Linked DNA regions of Homo sapiens. The protein of the gene in region 1 interacts with the protein of each later gene in a pairwise test. Each region holds a gene or a part of one and is shown on either strand. Other genes may lie near its edges. The genes, in order: SEPHS1 and SPACA9.

What was found.
Region 2: the proteins of SEPHS1 (region 1) and SPACA9 interact in a two-hybrid assay, tested with the Homo sapiens proteins (one large-scale study listed by BioGRID and IntAct).

What each region holds. Positions count from the first base shown.
Region 1 is NC_000010.11:13,323,988-13,327,805, reverse strand, and holds part of SEPHS1 (selenide, water dikinase 1), read left to right. Parts: intron 1-3,818. UniProt on the Homo sapiens protein: Synthesizes selenophosphate from selenide and ATP.
Region 2 is NC_000009.12:132,885,276-132,889,093, forward strand, and holds part of SPACA9 (sperm acrosome-associated protein 9), read left to right. Parts: intron 1-2,093; coding exon 2,094-2,296; intron 2,297-3,014; coding exon 3,015-3,336; 3' UTR 3,337-3,818. UniProt on the Homo sapiens protein: Microtubule inner protein (MIP) part of the dynein-decorated doublet microtubules (DMTs) of multiciliated respiratory cells and the distal singlet microtubules of monoflagellated spermatozoa.

The DNA.
Region 1 (3,818 bases):
GTAGTAGATTCCTTTTGGCTGTGTTGATTTTTCCACTGGCTTCTCTGCTCTCCTGTTTCACACTGGGGCGACTGCTATGGACTTCCTTGGCCCAGCCCTCTGAGGCACGTGTAAGAGATCAGTACTGGCTCAGCTTTTATAGATAGTGCCAAACTGTCTTCCAAAGTGTTCACCACAGTTTACAATGGCACACTATGTTTAGAAAGCGTTTTTTAATATGTCTTCTCTTCCCATTTATTTTATACATTTTTTCTACTATAAAAGAATTACATGCTTATTATAGAAAAGTTTTTAGAAAATGGAAAATAGTACAGAAAAAAGTTGTCCATAGTCCCTCCACCCAAAACAGCTCCGGCTAGCATTTTTATGTATTCTTCCAGGACTTTTTTTCATGTTTGGCTGGTGATTTACTATTGTTGTTTTAAAGTAGTGGTTAGTATAAGTTTTCACTATGTAATGGTTAGTATATGTATTTGGAGTGCCTGCTTTTGTTGTTTTGACATGACTAATGTTTCCCATATTATGTATCCTAGTAAACTTTTTTTTTTTTTTTTTTTTTTTTTTTGAGACAGAATCTAACTCTGTCGCCCAGGCTGGAGTCCATTGGTGTGATCTCGGCTCACTGCAACCGCTACCTACCAGGTTCAAGCAGTTCTGTTGCCTCAGCCTTCCCAGTAGCTGGGACTACAGGCACGCATCATCACCATGCCCGGCGGATTTTTGTATTTTTGGTAGAGACAGGGTTTCACTATGTTGGCCAGGCTGGTCTCGAACTCCTGACCTCAGGTGATCTACCCTCCTTGGCCTCCCAAGGTGCTAGGATTATAGGCGTGAGCCATAGTACACATAATTTTTAATGACTAGATAATGTTCTACCAGAGAAATGTACCACAATTATCTTTTACCTATTGTTTTACAATTCATTTGGAAATAAAAATTTTCTGTAATTTGTTGTTACTTGTAAGAAAGTTATAGCCAGGCACAGTGGCTCACACCTATAATCCAGCACTTTGGGAGGTTGAGGCAGGAGGATCACTTGAGTCCAGCAGTTGGAGACCAGCCTAGGCAACATAGTGAGACCCCATCTCGTCTCTTTAGCTGCGCCTGGTGCATTCCTGTAGTCTAAGCTACTCGAGAGGCTGAGGTGGGAGGATTACTTGAGCCCAGGATGTTGAGACTGCAGTGAGTGGTGATCATACCCCTACGCTTCAGCCTGGGTGACAGGGTGAGATCATGTCTCAAAAAAAAAAAAAAAGTTATAGATCAGAGGAACAGAATAGAGAATCCAGAGGTAGGTCCATATTATAGTCAACTGATTTTTTTTTTTTTTTTGAGATGGAGTTTTGCTCTTTCGCCCAGGCTGAAGTGCAGTGGCAGGATCTTGGCTCACCGCAACCTCCGCCTTCCGACTTCAAGTGATTCTTCTGCCACAGCCTCCCAAGTAGCTGGGATTATAGGCGCCCGCCACCACGCCTGGCTAATTTTTGTATTTTTAGTAGAGATGGGTTTTCACCATGTTGGCCAGGCTAGTCTTGAACCCCTGACCTTGTGATCCGCCTGTCTCGGCCTCCCAAAGTACTGGGATTACAGGCGTGAGCCACTGCACCTGGCCTAGTCAACTGATTTTTGACAAAGGAGTAAAGGCAATTCATTGGAGAAAAGAGTCTTTTCACCAAATGGTGCTGGAACAAGTGGACATTCACATGAAGAAAATTATTCTGGATGCAGATCTTATACCTTTCGTGAAGATTAACTCAAAATGAATGTTTAGTGTGTTTTCACACTGCTATAAATAGCCAAGACTGGATAATTTATTTATTCATTTATTATTATTATTATTATTTTTTTTTTTTTTTTTTGAGACTGAGTCTCTTTTTTTTTTTTTTTTTTTTTTTTTTTTTTTTTTTTTTGAGACGGAGTCTCGCTGTCGCCCAGGCTGGAGTGCAGTGGGGTGATCTCGGCTCACTGCAACCTGTGCCTCTCAGGTTCAAGCGATTCTCCTGCCTCAGCCTCTGGAGTAGCTGGGATTACAGGGCGCACGCCACCACACCCCACTAATTTTGGTATTTTTAGTAGAGACGGGGTTTCACCATGTTGGTCAGGCTGGTCTTGAACTCCTGACCTTGGCCTCCCAAAGTGCTGGAATTGCAGGCGTGAGCCACCATGCCCAGCTGACTGGGTAATTTATAAAGGAAAGAGGTTTAATTTACTCACAGTTTCACATGGCTGGGGAGACCTCAGGAAACTTACAGTCGTGGCAGATGGTGAAGGGGAAACAGGCACCTAGGTTCTTCATGAGGCAGCAGGACAGAGAAGAGCAGGGGAAACTGCCACTTACAAAACCATCAGATCTCATGAGAATTCATTCACCCTGACGAGAACAGCACGAGGGAAACCGCCCTCATGATTCAGTCACCTCCCACCAGGTCCCTCTCTTGACATGTGGGGATTACAATTCGAGATGAGATTTAGGTGGGGACACAGAGCCAGACCATATTGATGATTCGTAGACCTAAATAAAACACAACAATATAAAACTGGAAGAAGGTAACATCAGAGAAAATTGAGGTGGCTTTGGGTTTGGTGATGACTTTATAACACCAAAAGCACTATCTATTAAAAAATTGCTAAGTTTGGCTTTATTAATATAAAAAACTTCTGCTCGGTGAAAAACACTGTTAAGGAAATGAAAAGACAAGCCACAGACTGGGAGAAAAATTTTGCCAAACACATACCTGTTCAAGGTCAGGTATCCAAAATATACAAAGGACTCTTAAAACTCAATAATAAAAAACAACTCAATTTAAACATGGCCCAAAGACCTTGACAGACACCATGAAAGAAGATAACGCAGATGGCAAATAAGCATAAAAGGAAACCTTCAGTGTGGTACGTCAATAGGGAACTGTAGATTAAAGCAGTGATTGAGATGCCACCACATACCTGTTAGAATGGCTAAAATCCAAAACACTGAGAATAGCCTGGGCAACATGGTGAAACCCCATCTCTACCAAAAAAATACAAAAAATTAGCTGGGCATGGTGGCTTGCGCCTTAGTCCCAGCTACTTGGGAAGCTGAGGTTGGGAGGATCCCTTGAGCCCAGGAGGTCGAGGCTGCAGTAAGCTGTGATCGCACCACCTCACTCCAGCCTGGGTGACAAAGCGAGACCCTGTCTCAAAAAAAACCCAAAAACACTGATAATACCAACTGCTGGCAAGGATGTAGAGAAACAGGAAGGAACTCTCATTTATTACTGGTAGGACTGAAAACTGGCACAGCCACTTTAAAAGTCAGTTTGGCAGTTTCTTATGAAACTAAATATGTTATTATATGATGCAGCGATTGTGCTCCTTGATATTCACTCAAAAAAGTTGAAAACTTACATTCACACAAAAGCCTGCAGACAAATGTTCATAGCAGCATTATTCATAATTGCCAGAACTTGGAAGCAGCCATTCATTTCTTCAGTAGGTGAGTGGATGAATGGATAAACAAAATGTAGTGTATCTGTATGATGGAATATAATTGAGCAGTAAAAAGAAATGAGCTATCAAGCCATGAAAAGATGTGGAGGAATCTTAAGTGCATATTACTAAGTGAAAGAAGCCAGTCTGAAAAAGCTCCATACAGAAGGATTCCAACTGCATGACATTCTGCAAAACTGTAGAGATGCAGAAAGGATCAGTGGTGGCCAGAGGTTATCGGAGAGGAAGGGGATCAGGTAGAGCAGAGCACTGAGGATTTGTTACTTCCCACTTAATTTCTTTCTAAACGCAAAACTGCTCCAAAAAATAAAGTCTGTAAATTTTTTTAAAAT
Region 2 (3,818 bases), on another chromosome or scaffold:
GGCCGAGGTGAGTGGATCACCTGAGGCCAGGAGTGGAGACCAGCCTGGCCAACATGGTGAAACCCCATCTTTACTAAAAATCCCAAAATTAGCCAGTTGTGGTGGTACGCGCCTGTAGTCCCAGTGACTCGGGAGGCTGAGGCATGAGAATCACATGAACCCTGGAGGCAGAAGCTGCAGTGAGCCGAGATCGCACCACTGCACTCCAGCCTGGGTGACACAGCAAGACCCTGTCTCAAAAAAAAAAAAAAAAAAAAAAAGTTAAATGTACAGAAAAGGAGCACCCATATAACCCTCACCCAGATTCACCGACTTGTGACATTTAGCCAATTTAGCCATATTTGCCCACGCATGCAGCCCCTGAGCTATTGGAAAATAAACTTCCTCTTCTGTAAACCTGGACTTCGGGGGAAAAAAGAAAAGAAACTGCCTACATCCTTTTTAGTCCATCCTCCAGAAGCTTCAAAAGTCAACAAGTGTCCCTTCCCAGAATCTACATCCATGCATAAGGGAGTGGCCTTCTTGCCTTAGGTTCAGCCGAAGGCTCTTGGTAAACAGTGGCCTTGTGTTCTGAGTTGCCTCACCCCTCCCCTGCCCTCCCTGAACCAGAAGTGTCCAAAGGTTCCCTGCACACCGCCCCCCACCCCCGCAATGCTCTGTTGTAGTTACACCATGGGGCAGGTTCCTCCTCCTCGACCCCTACAGGTGCCTTTGTGGGTATGAGTGTGAAGAGCCTCTCCCCCTTACGAAGCTGCTTGTGCATGGCAGTCCTTGGGAAGGAACCACTTCAGATTGTTTGGGGAAACATCCCCTAGCAACAAAAAGACAAACGGTTACAGCAAGAAAACCCTGATTTAGATGTAGACCTTTGTGGGTGCTGGAGGAGGTGATACCTGCATCTGTCATCAGATTGTGGAGAGTAGAACCATCTGACTACGAAATGGGTCTGTTCATCTGGCCTGGACCACAGCCAATTCCTCCCTAGCTCGAGATCAGACCTCCGGCTCTGGCCCAACCTCAGATGCAGTCACTGGGTAACCCCATAAGCTCCACTTACTGGCCTGCCCCTCCTTCTCCACCTTGTGAACACAGTACGGCTGAAGCCCAAAGGATTCCAGTCCCTGCTGTTTCCCTCTCAGTATGGGTGGCCCACGCTGGAATTTCTCACAATGAACCCTCTAGAAGTGGGATGACAGGCACTGTGGCATTAAGTCAGGGGGCAGCCCCCTTTTGCTTTAGGCGGTGGTTGGTTCAGGTGGCAGGGGACAGGTGAGGGGTAGGGCACGGAGCCACTGAGCTGGGGACACCCAACTAAGCCACTGGTGCCCTGGGCGGGTTATTTCACCTCTGCAAACCTCCAGTGTTCATGTCATGGTACTGATCTGTAAAATGGGAATTTAAAAAGGTACCTGCTCAGTGTGTAGGGTTTAGATGAAGACAGGCGAGAGCAGGCCCGTAAAGCATTTTGCATGGTGCCTGGAACACTTGATTTTATATCCATCTATCTATCTACCCATCCATCCGTCCATTTAATTTAATTAATTTTTTGTTTTTGAGATGGCATCTTGCTCTGTTACCCAGGCTGGAGTGCAGTGGCATGATCTCGGCTCACTGCAGCCTCCTCCTCCCGGGTTCAAGTGGTTTTCCTGCCTCAGCCTCCCGAGTAGCTGGGATTACAGGCACGTGCCACCACGCCTGGCTAATTTTTTTTTTCCTAGTAGAGATGGGGTTTCACCATGTTGACCAGGCTGGTCTCGAACTCCTGACCTCAAGTGATCCCCGCCCACCTCAGCCTCCCAAAGTGCGGGGATTACACGTGTGAGCCACTGTGCCCAACCGATCCATTAATTTCATATCATATCTATCCATCCATCCATCCATCCATCCATCCATCCATCCATCCATCTATAGAGAGAGAGATACCACTATATAGAGTGGTCTGTACCTTAAAATGCTTAAGCGTTACTTGCGTCTCCCCCATGAGTCATGTAGGGTGGGAGGGAGTAGGGTGGGTGCTTCTGGACATTTGCACCATAAGCCAGCCAGGACCCGGGTTGGCATGTCCCCAGCTCATGTGGCGGCGGCCCTTGCAGGTGCAGAGCTACATGGAACACTACTGCAACAGCTCCACAGACCGGCGGGTTCTGCTCATGTTCCTGGACATCTGTTCAGAGCTGAATAAGCTCTGCCAGCACTTTGAGGCCGTGCACTCTGGCACCCCAGTCACCAACAACCTCCTGGAGAAATGCAAAACCCTCGTTAGCCAAAGCAACGACTTAAGCAGCCTCAGAGCAAAGTAAGTCCCTCTGATGCTGCTCTTGAGGCCCCGTGTGTGCCTGTGGGGAGGCCTCTGTCCTGCTTCTTTCCTGTTGCCTGGATCATGGTGCTCCTATTAGACCACCCCGGGCAGGAAATCCCAGTCTCCACTCATTTATTGGAATGACTCGGATTCAACAAAACCTTTTCTTTACAACCATCGTAGACATGGCAGGACACCAGGTGTCTCACGGGTGTTAGCACCAGGCAGGTGGAGAAGGGGGTGTAGAGCCCAGAGCAGTTGCCCCCAGAAGCCCACAGAGATCCTCACTGACATGCAAAGAAGTGGACACCAGAGCCGCCTCCCAGGGGCAGCAGCACTGGCACTGAGGGCTCCTCATCCTGACAGCCCGGGAGCCTGCAGCACAGTGGGCCAGAGCCTGGGGAAGCTCTGTAGATACCAGGGTGAGAAGAGCCAGAGGGATGAGCCAGCCAGTTCCTCACCCCTAACCCAGGTTTCTACGGACCATGGGGCAGTGGTTTGCATCTCCTGTCTTTCACACCAGAATTACCTGGGGCTTGTGGCACCCCAGGCCTGGTCTGCCAGAATCTCTGGGGACAGAGCGCCTCAGCGTGCTGTGTGTCCAGTTCTAAAGCCTCCCCAGGTGACTCTGCTGTGCCTGAGGTGTGGCAGCTGCTTGCCACGGCATGGCAAGTCCCGGGAGCATGGGTTCACCTGGCCCCCTGCCGTCCTGCAGATACCCTCATGATGTGGTGAACCACCTCAGCTGTGACGAGGCCCGGAACCACTACGGCGGCGTGGTCAGCCTCATCCCCCTCATCCTAGACTTAATGAAAGAATGGATCGCCCACTCCGAGAAGTTGCCGCGCAAGGTGCTGCAGCACGTGAGTGAGCCCCAGGCGCACCAGGAGAGCACCAGGGGAGCCGCTCGTCCTGCCCAGGCCATAGGGACCCAGCCCAGGGCCACTAAACACAAGTGTAGACAGCTCACAAAAGCCAGCCTCAAACCCAGGGGATGTTCAAAACCACCCTGGAGGCCTCCTGGTGGGAAATTGTAACTCAGAGCCAGGAGCTCCGTCGGCGGAGAGCTTTGCTGTTTAATTTGGATTTTACTGGTTGGTCCTTTTTTCACTGGTACCCATGGACCCTGCCACTTACTAACCCCAAGGGAATCAGCCAATATATTACTGAGACTTCCTCTCTCTCTTCTTGCTTTAACTTCTTTTTTTTTTGAGACGGAGTCTCGCTCTGTCGCCCAGGCTGGAGTGCGGTGGCGCAACCTCGGCTCACTGCAACCTCCGCCTCCCAGGTTCACGCCATTCTCCTGCCTCAGCCTCCCAAGTAGCTGGGACTACAGGCGCCCACCACCTCGCCTGGCTAATTTTTTGTATTTTTAGTAGAGACAGCGTTTCACCATGTTAGCCAGGATGGTCTCAATCTCCTGACCTCATGATCTACCCTCGTGATCGGCCTCCCAAAGTGCTGGGATTACAGGCGTGAGCCACAGCGCCCGGCCCTCTTGCTTTAACTTCTAACATTT